Regions from separate parts of the Homo sapiens genome. Here region 1 is linked to region 2. Evidence: fine-mapped expression QTL. A gene starts in region 2. The other region holds a variant in brackets. All regions are shown on one strand. Distances are between the middles of the regions.

The links.
Region 1: its variant is fine-mapped to the expression of RYR1 in whole blood (INTERVAL, PIP above 0.99).

The regions. Positions count from the first base shown.
Region 1 is chr19:38,545,470-38,550,847 of GRCh38, reverse strand. RYR1 (ryanodine receptor 1) reads right to left here. Exons shown (of 106, transcript NM_000540.3): 88 at 4,322-4,403; 89 at 2,428-2,615. Among named protein-coding and RNA genes, the nearest start is that of MAP4K1-AS1, 48 kb to the left of the region's middle. The variant T/A (reference allele first, on the strand shown) is at 2,997.
Region 2 is chr19:38,431,367-38,436,744 of GRCh38, reverse strand. It overlaps RYR1 (ryanodine receptor 1), which reads right to left and starts at 3,054. Exons shown (of 106, transcript NM_000540.3): 1 at 2,871-3,054. The coding sequence starts at 2,915. RefSeq lists an enhancer at 1,725-2,300 and a silencer at 3,032-3,171.

The sequences.
Region 1 (5,378 bases), 110 kb before region 2:
TCAATGGATGATGACCCCAGAGTTAGCAGAATATTTACATAGCCTCAAAGTATATCCTCATGAGACACTTATTGATTCCAAAGGGAATAACAGTAACTTCATTGTGGAGCCCCTGGTGAACACCGAGTTAACCAAGCCATCCAAGTTAACAACAGTAATGGGAAGAGACATTGGCCAGGTGCAGTGACTCACACCTGTAATCCCAGCACTTTGGGTGGCTGAGGCAGGAGGATCGCCTGAGCCCAGGGGGTCAAGGATGCAGTGAGCTAGGATTGTTTGACTGCACTCCAGCCGGGGCAATAGAGCAAGACTCTGACTCTAAAAACAAATAAATAAGAAAATAAACAGTAATGGGATGAAACCACATGTGCCTCCTAATACATTACACTGAGGACACATCACTTCTCTGATATTCCTGCAAAAGATGCATAACCCTAGTCTGATAATGATGAAAACTCAGACAAACCCACACTGAACGACATTTTACAAAACAGTTTGCCTGCGTTCTTCAAACATGTCAGGAAAGATAAAGACAGACCCAGGCACAGTTCCAGACTGAAGGAGGAAAACAGACAGAACACCTAAATACAATCCCTGGTTCTGGGTTGGCAAAGAAAAGACATTGACGAAAGAAATTTATTCAACAAGGGAAACTGAATAAGGTCTAGGATTAGATAGCAGCATTGTGCCAATGTTAATTTCCTGATTAGCATAATTGTCCTGTGCTTAGGTAGGAGAATGAATTTGTTCTCAGGAGATACACGCTGAAGTGTTTCAAAGTAAAGGGAAATTGGCTAGGCGAGGTGGTTCATGCTTGTAATCCCAGCACTTTGGGAGGCCGAGGCAGGCAGATCACTTGAGGCCAGGAGTTCAAGACCAGCCTGGCCAACATGGTGAAATCCCATCTCTACTAAAAATACAACACACACACACACACACACACACACACACACACACACACACACACACACAAATTTAGCTGGGCATGGTGGTGCGTGCCTGTAATCCCAGCTACTCAGGAGGCTGAGGCAGGAGAATCGCTTGAACCCAGGAGGCGGAGGTTGCACTGAGCTGAGATTGCACCACTGCACTCCAGCCTGGGCAACAAGAGCAAAACTCCGTCTCAAAAAAAAAAAAAAAAAAAAAAAAGGAAAGGAAAGGGAAATCATGATGGAGTAAATAGTAAATAGAAAACATTTGGGCAATGTGGGTGAAAGGTATTCAGAAATTCTATGTGCTGTTCTTGCAACGTCTCTATAAACCTGAAGTTATTTCAAAATAAAAAGTTAACAAAATGGTAACATTAAAGATCAGGGAGTAGTAATAGCAGCTAACATCTCTTGAGGACTCACCATATTCCAGGTACTGCCCGCACTGCCCATCCTCACAATAGTTAATAGTTGTTTTATTTTTATTTTTATAGATACAGGGTTTCACTAGGTTGCCCAGGCTGATCTCGAACTCTTGGGCTCAAGCGATCCTCCCACCTCGGCCTCCCAAATTGCTGGGATTATAGGCATGAACCACCGCACACTGCCAATAGTTAGTGGTTAATGTGATTATCCTATCCCCATTTTACAGAGTAGGAAACTGAGGCTCAGAAGAAAAGATGGAGAGTTAGGATGGGAGAGGTGGTTAGAGGAGGAGGAGTGGGTTTCTGAATAAGGATGTTCCAGCACTTCCCTCCTAGCAGGCTCATTATTTAGACTTGGAATGGTCTAGTTAGTGACTGCCTCCCCCATTAGACTATAAACCCATGAAAGCACGGGCTGTGTCTATCTTGGTCATTGATGCGTCAATAGTGTCACTACAGGCCCTACACAGAGAAGAAAGCCAGCCAATGTTTATTGATGGAATAACTGATGCCTATTCACAATAATGATAATGTTATGACTATCAATAAAGATAACAGTAATAACGGTTCTCATCTGTGTTAATGCATTTCATCCTCAAAATAACCCAAGGGGGCTGAGCGAGGTGGCTCATGCCTATAATCCCAGCACTTTGGGAGGCCAAGGTAGGAGAATTGTTGGAGCCCAAGAGTTCAAGAGGAGCCTGGGTAATGTAGTGAGACCACATCTCTACAAAAAATAAACTTAAAAATTAGCCAGGCATGATGTCACACACCCGTCGTCCCAACTACTCAGGAGGCTGAGGTGGGAGGATTGCTTAAGCCAGGAGGTCAAGGCTGCAGTGAGCTATGATCACGCCACTGCACTCCAGCCTGGGCAACAGAGAAAGACCTTGTCTCTAAAATGAAATAAAACAGAATACATATAACCCAAGGACTGTTTTATCCTCATTTTACAAACAAGGAAAGTGAGGCTTGCAGAGATGTCTCTTGCCTGAGGCAGCCAGCCAGAAGGGTATGGCTGGCCCTTGGCAACCCCACCCAAGTCCTGGGCCCACACGATGTCCCACACCCACCTTCTGGAAGTCCTTCTTGGAGATGAGGCCACGGGGATCCGTTACGTAGTCCTGGAAGGCTTCAGAGCCCACAATGTCCTTGAGTTTCAGGAACATGTCGAAGAACTTGAGGATCATCTCCACATTGGATGAGGATTCCACGAGCATGTCCACCATCTGCCGGGCGATCATGCCGTTCACCACGTTCCCTGCAGGCAGCCCCAGGTCAGTGTGGCCGGTGAACACTCCCTTCTGGGGCCCCACCAGGCTTGCCTCTCTTTCCAGCCCAGGAGCCACCACGCTGCTGGAGTGTCCCTGGCCAGCCACAGCCTCCCCTCCACAGGTCCCTTCCTGACCTGCGTCAGCCTCCTGTGCCAACCTGGCTGATCCTGCCTTTGCCCACCTCCCCCAGTAAAGCTAATGATGTCAGGTCGGACGTGGTGGCTCACGCCTGTAATCCCAGCACTTTGGGAGACCGAGGTGGGTGGATCACTTGAGGCCAGGAGTTTGAGACCAGCCTGGCCAACATGGTGAAACCCCGTCTCTATTAAAAATACAAAATCAGCTGGGCGTGGTGGCATGTGCTTGTA[T/A]TTCCAGCTACTTGGGAGGCTGAGGCACGAGAATTGCTTGAACCTGGGAGGCGGAGGTTGCAGAGCCGAGATCGTGCCACTGCACTCCAGCCTGGGTGATGGAGTGAGACTCTGTCTCAAAAAAAAAAAAAAAGATAATGATGATGTACGCTAAAGGTAGGTGCCAAATGCTACCCTGGCACAATCACACAAAAAGGGAAGTGTGTGACTCTACTTTTAGGAAGAGAAACTGAGACATAGAGAAAGTCATGCACTCAAAGTTACATAGCCAGTAAAGTGGGGAGAATGGATTTGAACTCAGAGCTGCATGACCTCAGGGCTTACACAACTAAAACTTCCACCAGTACACACAGTCAGGAGGGTCCACAGAAGACTGAGGCTAGCCAGTGGTAAGCAGCAAGGAGAGGTAGAGATTGGCAAACTGCGATCCCACACTCCCTCTAAAGGCAGCAGCTGAAGCTTGGCTCCAGTTTATTTTTGTAATTTTTAAATTTTAATGTAGGCTGGGCGCAGTGGCTCAAGTCTGTAATCCCAGCACTTTGGGAGGCTGAGGCGGGAGGATCACGAAGTCAGGAGATCCAGACCATCCTGACCAACATGGTGAAACCCCGTCTCTACTAAAAATACAAAAAAAAAAAAAAAAAAATTAGCCAGGTGTGGTGGCGGGCGCCTGTAGTCCCAGCTACCGGGGAGGCCAAGCAGGAGAATGGCGTGAACCTGGGAGGCGGAGCTTGCAGTGAGCCGAGATCGCGCCACCGCACCTCCAGCCTGAGCGGCAGAGCGAGACTCCGTCTCAGAAAAGAAAAAAAAAAAAAAGGGATCCTAATATATCCACATTCATCAATTGTTTATCTTTTGCCACATTTGGACATTTGGTTTGTTTTTGGGGTTTGTTTTTTTGAGACAGGGTCTTGCTCTGTCACCCAGGCTGGAGTGCAGTGGTGTGATCACAGCTCACTGCAGCCTGGACCTCCCGGGCTCTGGTGATCCTCCCACCTCAGCCTCCCGAGTAGCTGGGTCTACAGGCACACACCACCACACTAGGCTAATTTTTGTATTTTTAGTAGAGACAGGGTCTCACCATGTTGCCCAGGCTGGTCTCAAACTCCTGACTTCAGGTGATCTTCCCACCTCGGCCTCCCAAAGTGCTGGGATTACAGGTGTAGCCACCGCATCTGGCCTATTATGGCTTCTTCATCAACCCATGGATCCTGACACGATGTCAGATGGGGTTGAGGATTAGGGTCTCCCGGGTCTCAGGGGGCCATTCTCAGGCTTCTCTGAACCTCTTTACTGTTCCCTCACCCTCACTCCTGGGTGTTTACCTTCTAGTAGCGACAGCAACATCACCACCATGTCCTTCTGCAGATCCAGCAGCTCCTTCAGCAGCTCGATCTGGCTTGAGTCCTAGAGATCCCAGCTCGGTGAGGGCTGGTCTCAGCATACACCTCCCCCACCTCTGTTGCTTCTCCCCCTCCTCACCTACCCAGCAGGGCCTAAACCCGTTTTCTCCCCTCTTACCTCCGAGGGGACCCGAGTCCAGACATGTTCCTCGGAAGCAGGGGAAGGGGCAGAGAGACAAGATTGTGGGGGTGGGGTTGGCACTTGGGGGACGGGCTCGATAGGTGATGGGTAGTGGGAAGGCTGGCAGACAAGGAGGACTGAGAGGCTTGCGGGGCAGACATTTGGGGCAGAGAGAGACAGAGACAGACAGAGACAAACACTGGGGACAGAGACCCAGGTCTAGGAAGGGATGTGAGCCCAGCACTGTGCCTGGCCTACGGTGGGATTGACAGATGTATGTTGAATATAATGTGTGATGGCAAGAGTGGGACTCTGGGTTCAGGAGGAAGGCTGCAGAGACAGCCATGTGCTTTCTGGTAAGCCGTCTGCGGGGAACATAGGGCCACAGTGTAGGGCCCATAGAAACCTCCAATACAAAGTTTTGCCTCATGGCCCCTATTTATGTTAGGTTGAGTCACATAAAATTGCCAACATGTGATCACTTTTGGCTCACAAAGTGGTAATTTCTTTCTTTTTGAGACAGAGTTTTGCTCTTGTTGCCCAGGCCGGAATGTAATGGCGCAATCTCGGCTCACTGCAACTTCTGCCTCCCAGGTTCAAGCAATTCCCCTGCCTAAGCCTCTCGAGTAGCTGGATTACAGGCATGCGCCACCATACCCAGCTAATTTTTTACTTTTAACAGAGATGGGGTTTCTCCATGTTGGTGAGGCTGGTCTCGAACTCCTGACCTCAGGTGATCTGCCCGCCTAGGGCTCCCAGAGTGCTGGGATTACAGGTATGAGCCACCGTGCCAGATCCAAAGTGGTAATTTCATATGGTTCCACCAAATAAAATGGAGAGGGGAGGAGATGATACCAG
Region 2 (5,378 bases):
CTACATTTTATGAGACTTGTTTCAGTTAAAAATAGGTACAAGTGAATGGTCACAGGCCCTGTGTTGTCTATAATAGTAAAAATTGGAGACGACTCAAATGTCCATCAGCAGGTGAACTGATAAACACACCACAGTATAGTCGCACAATGGAATAATATTCGGCAACAAAAAGCAACAAACTCAATACATGCTACATGGATGAATGTCAAAAATATTATGCTGAGTGAAAGAAGAAAGGCCGGGCATGGTGGCTTATGCCTGTAATCCCAAAACTTTGGGAGGCCAAGGCCGGAGGATTTCTTGAGCCCAGGAGTTTGACACCAGCCTGGGCAATATAGTGAGACCTCACCTCTACAAAAAATTTTACAAATTAGCCAAGCATGGTGCTATGCACGTGTAGTCCCAGCTACTCAGGAGGCTGAGGTGGGAGGATCACTGGAGCCTGGGAAGTGGAGGTTGCGTTGAACCAACCACCAAACTGCTGTACTCCAGCCTGGGCAACAGATTGAGACTCTGTCTCAAAAAGAAAAAAAAAGGCCGGGCGTGGTGGCTCACACCTGTAATCCCAGCACCTTGGGAGGCCAAGATGGGTGGATCATCTGAGGTCAGGAGTTCAAGACCAGCCTGGCCAACATGGTGAAACCCCATCTCTACTAAAAATACAAAAAATTAGCTCGGCTTGGTGGCACGCGCCTGTAATCCCAGCTACTCAGGAGGCTGAGGCAGAAGAATCGCTTGAACCCAGGAGGCAGAGGTTGCAGTGAGCTGCGATCACGCCATTGCACTCCAGTCTGGGCAACAAGAGTGAAACTCCATCTCAAAAAAATAAATAAATAAACAAAAACAAAACAACTCATTGAACACATAAACTGGGTAAAATTTATTGCAGGTCAATTATACCTCAATAAAGTTGGTTTTTAGTCATGTCTATGCATGTGTGCATGTACTGAGTTGTAAGACAGAATGTTTCTTATGGGCGGGATGTGGTCCAGAAGGTTTTTTGTTCTGAGATGGAGTCTCGCCCTGTCGCCCAGGCTGGAGTGTGCAGTGGCGCAATCTCGGCTCACTGCAACCTCTGCCTCCCAGGTTCAAGCAATCCTCCCACTTCAGCCTCCCGAGTAGCTAAGATTACAGGCATGCACCACCACGCCTGGCTAATATTTTTTTGTATTTTTAGTAGAGACGGGGTTTCACCATGTTGGCCAGGCTGGTCTCAAACTCCTGACCTCAAGTGATCCGCTCACCTTGGCCTCCCAAAGTGCTGAGATTACAGGCATGAGCCACTGAGCCCAGCCTCCAGAAAGTTTTGAGAAATCCACCACGACCTCAGTAACAATCAGAAAAACTGACCCAGTCTGGGGTGGAGAGATTCCAGGGCCAAGCCTCCAGAACCCTAACGCTGACTACTTTGGCAAGTCTGGGCCCAGATTTTCTCTGGTGAAGGCAATGGGGCTGGGCACCAGGGGCATCCAGAGATGCCACTTCCTGGCCTTGACCTTGGGTGAGTGATTCTACCATTCGGGCCTTGGTTTCCCTCAAATCTGTCAGGGAGATAAAGATAGGACCCTACCTCAGAAGACAGGGCAGCAAGGATATAATTAGATGTCTCAGGAGGCAGAGGCCCAGGGCACAGGGCCTGGTTTAGAGCGACAGCTCAAGAGCCAGTGGCCATGGCCATGGTCTTATTAGGGCTGGGGAGGGCCCGACCCATGGTGTCTGCTGAGGGGCTGGGGCTGGGGAGAGAGTCTCGGCTGAAGCTAGGCCCCTTCCCAGCTGTCCCCATCCTTCACTACCAGCCCCAGCTGTTTGTTCCTCTCTCCCAGGAAACCGGACCCGGCTCGCCAGGGTCCTATTCTGGGGCAGGAATGCTGTGTCAGCATTTCCTGTGTGGCTCCAGGGCCCCGGGGGGAGGGGCGGGGCTAGCGTCTGGTCAGCAGACCTAGCCCAGAGGAGAGGACGTCCCCTCCCATATTTACGACCCCACACCCTGCGGAGCCACTGGGAGGGGAAGATGGGAAGGACAAGGAGATGGCAGCCCCTCCTCCCTCTCATCCCCTCCCCATCCCCTGCCCAGGCCCCAGAAAAGCCGGCTATTCTGGGAGGGACACCTGTTGTTCCAATTCCCATCCCTGCCCCCAGCTGGGGCTCAGATGCAGGGAGTAACCCAGCTAGAGAGACAGCGAAAATCAGAGGGCCTTAAGCTAAGAAACAGAGACAGGGAGACTGAGATGGAGGAAGAGACAGAGACATGGAGACACCCAAAGAGACAGATGGGGAGAGACACCACCCAGAGACCCTGCAAGACCATTAGCAGCCATTGGGAGCAGCCCTCCTGCCCAAAACGAAGAAGGAAAGAAAGACCCAGAACCCAAGAGATCCCTCCCCCACAAGACCCTCAAGGGCTAGGAGTTGGAAGCAGCTGTGTCCTCCAGCTCACTCCAGCTCCCTTCTCAAGAATTTAAATAGGTCAGAGTCTGGAGCAAAAAGAGAATTAGGGCTAAGGTGGGGGTGGGGGGATGGCTAAATCAAGCCCAGGAATTAGAACCACCTTCCCCAAGTGCCTGCTTCCAAGATGGTGTGAGGGTGTGCTCCCTCGGGGGTCCTTCTTGTGGGGGACAAATCGCTAAAGTCAGAAGAGAGGGCAACCGAAGATCCCTTTCCCATTCTGGAGTCCCCAATCCTACTAATTCTCTGTAGTGAGAAAGGTGAAGGAGACTAAAAGACAGAGTGACAGTCACTCAAAGTGACATAGGAAGAGACCTCGAGTCTCAGAGACCACCAGCAAGCCGGACAGGGACATTCAGAGACAGAGAGACCCTCAGAGAGCCCCAAGAGATAGCCCCACAGGCCCCTAACCCAGAGATACGCACCGTCCGCAGGAACTGGACCTCGTCTTCGCCTTCTGCGTCACCCATGATGTCGAGGTCGGAAGCCCAGGGTCTGAGGTCGGGGAACAGAGGGAGGGGGCTGCGGGCTGGGCGGGAGGGCTGGGGGCGGGCTGGGGTCGGAGACCTCTGGAGACACCAGAGGCACCCGCGAGGTAGATGGAACTGCGAGGAGTACACGCATGCTGGACAGAGATGGGAGGAAGTCCCCGCCCCCGGGCCCCATTGGACCAGGACTCCCCGGCCACTCCCCTTCGCCGGAGCCCTGCCCACATACCCCAAATCTTGGCTGGAGGTTTGCTTGGCCGTTGGCCGCCGGAGGTGGGGTGGGAGAGAGAGTATCTAGGAGGTACCTGCGCTTTCTCCCCACCACGGTAAGTAACGTGCCATCATTCTCCCATTTCACAGAGGGCAGACTGAGGCTCTGAGTGGGGAAGTTCTTGCAAGATATCACGCAGCAGAGCAGGGATGTGCACCAGATCTCCTGACTTTAAAAAGCACCAAACATAGTGATTAAGAACAAGGACTCCGGCCGGGAGTGGTGGCTCACCCCTGTAATCTCAGCACTTTGGGACGCCGAGGTGGGTGGATCACTTGAGGTCAGGAGTTCGAGGCCAGCCTGGCCAACATGGTGAAACCCCCGTCTCTACTAAAAGTACAAAAATTAGCCAGGCGTGGTGACACATGCTTGTAATCCCAGCCACTTGGGAAACTGAGGCAGGAGAATTGCTTGAACTCCTTGAATTCGGGAGGCAGAAGCTGCAGTGAGCCGAGATTGAGCCACTGCACTCCAGCCTGGGCGAGACTTCGTCTGAAAAAAAAAAAAAAAAGAACAAGGACTCCGACTCCAAGCCAGATAATCTGGATCTGAATCCCACCCAGCCTTGCCACTTCCTTGAGTTACATGGATAAGCCACTTAGCTTCTCTGTGCCTCGGTTTCCCCATCCAGTAAGGGGAATATTAATAGTACCGACCTCACGTGGTTGTTGGGAGAGTTAAATGAGATAATTAATTAAATGAGATAAAACTTAAAACAGTGCCAGTGCCTGGTTAATGTAATGTAAGTGTTGCTATTATTATTATTTATTTATTTATTTATTTATTTTGAGACGGACTCTTGCTCTTGTTGCCCAGACTGGAGTGCAGTGGCAAGATCTTGACTCACTGCAACCTCCACCTCCCAGGTTCAAACGATTCTCCTCCTCAGCCTCCTGAGTAGCTGGGATTACAGGCACCTGCCAACACACCCGGCTAATTTTTGTATTTTTGGTAGAGACGGGGTTTCACCATGTTGGCCAGGCTGGTCTCGAACTCCTGACCTCATGATTCGCCCACCTCAGCCTCCCAAAGTGCTGGGATTACAGGTGTAAACCACCACGTCCAGCCCTATTAAAATTATTACTAGGCCAGACACAGTGGCTCATGCCTGTAATCCCAGCACGTTGGGAGGCCAAGGCAGACAGATCACTTGAAGCCAGGAATTTGAGACCAGCTTGGTCAACATGGTGAAACTCTGACTCTACTAAAAACACAGAAATTAGCTGGGCATGGTGTCACACGACTCTAATCCCAGCTACTTGGGAGGCTGAGGAACAAGAATCATTTAAGCCCAGGAGGCAGAGGTTGTAGTGAGCCGAGATTGTACCACTACACTCCAGCCCAGGTGACAGAGCAAGGCTCCACCTCAAAAAAAAAAAAAAAAATTTTTTTTATTAACATGTAGTGGTATACAGTAAGTTATATAAAACAATATCCCATAGTTAAACAAAATTACATAGAAACCGTTCTTCAAGGTATAGCAGGTTTCTAGGTGTTCCATAATTAAATACTGATGTTAACACAACTGCAATAAATAGCACAAAAGTTTGTGTCATATTATGGAATTATATAATTTGGCATTATATAATGTATAATTATATAATTATATATTTAGGCTAATATAATTATACAGTACAATACAATTCTATGTTGTATCTGTTATACATTATCCAACGCATAGTTGTATATTAAATATTGTTTTTCCCTAAAACTTTATGTAAATGTAAAATGATTCTGTGTCATTGAGCATTATATCATAAGATATTAATAGTGTTTCTTATTTTTGTCAGTCATCATTATGTGTTTTAAGACCTACCCTTGTTGCTCTGTGGACACCTGGTGTGTGACAGTGGTGGCTTTGCAGGATTCTCTGGTGACTGATCCCTTCTGTTTTTCCACCTACCCCTACTGGGAGCGGACACCCAGGCTGCCTCCAGCTCTCCCGAAATAATGCTGGAGGGAACATCTGTGTATTGGTCCCCCAGGAAGCTGAGGGAGAATGTTTTATTGTGCGTACCCAGAAGCTAATTGCTGGGTGACATATCCATGCGCACCATTTGTGTAAGTAGTGCTGGGTAGCCCTCGGAATGGCTACTCACTACCAGTGCATGAGGGTCCCCGGGTCCCCATATCCCCAACCCTCATGTGGCATTTCCAACTTAACTAATTTTTGC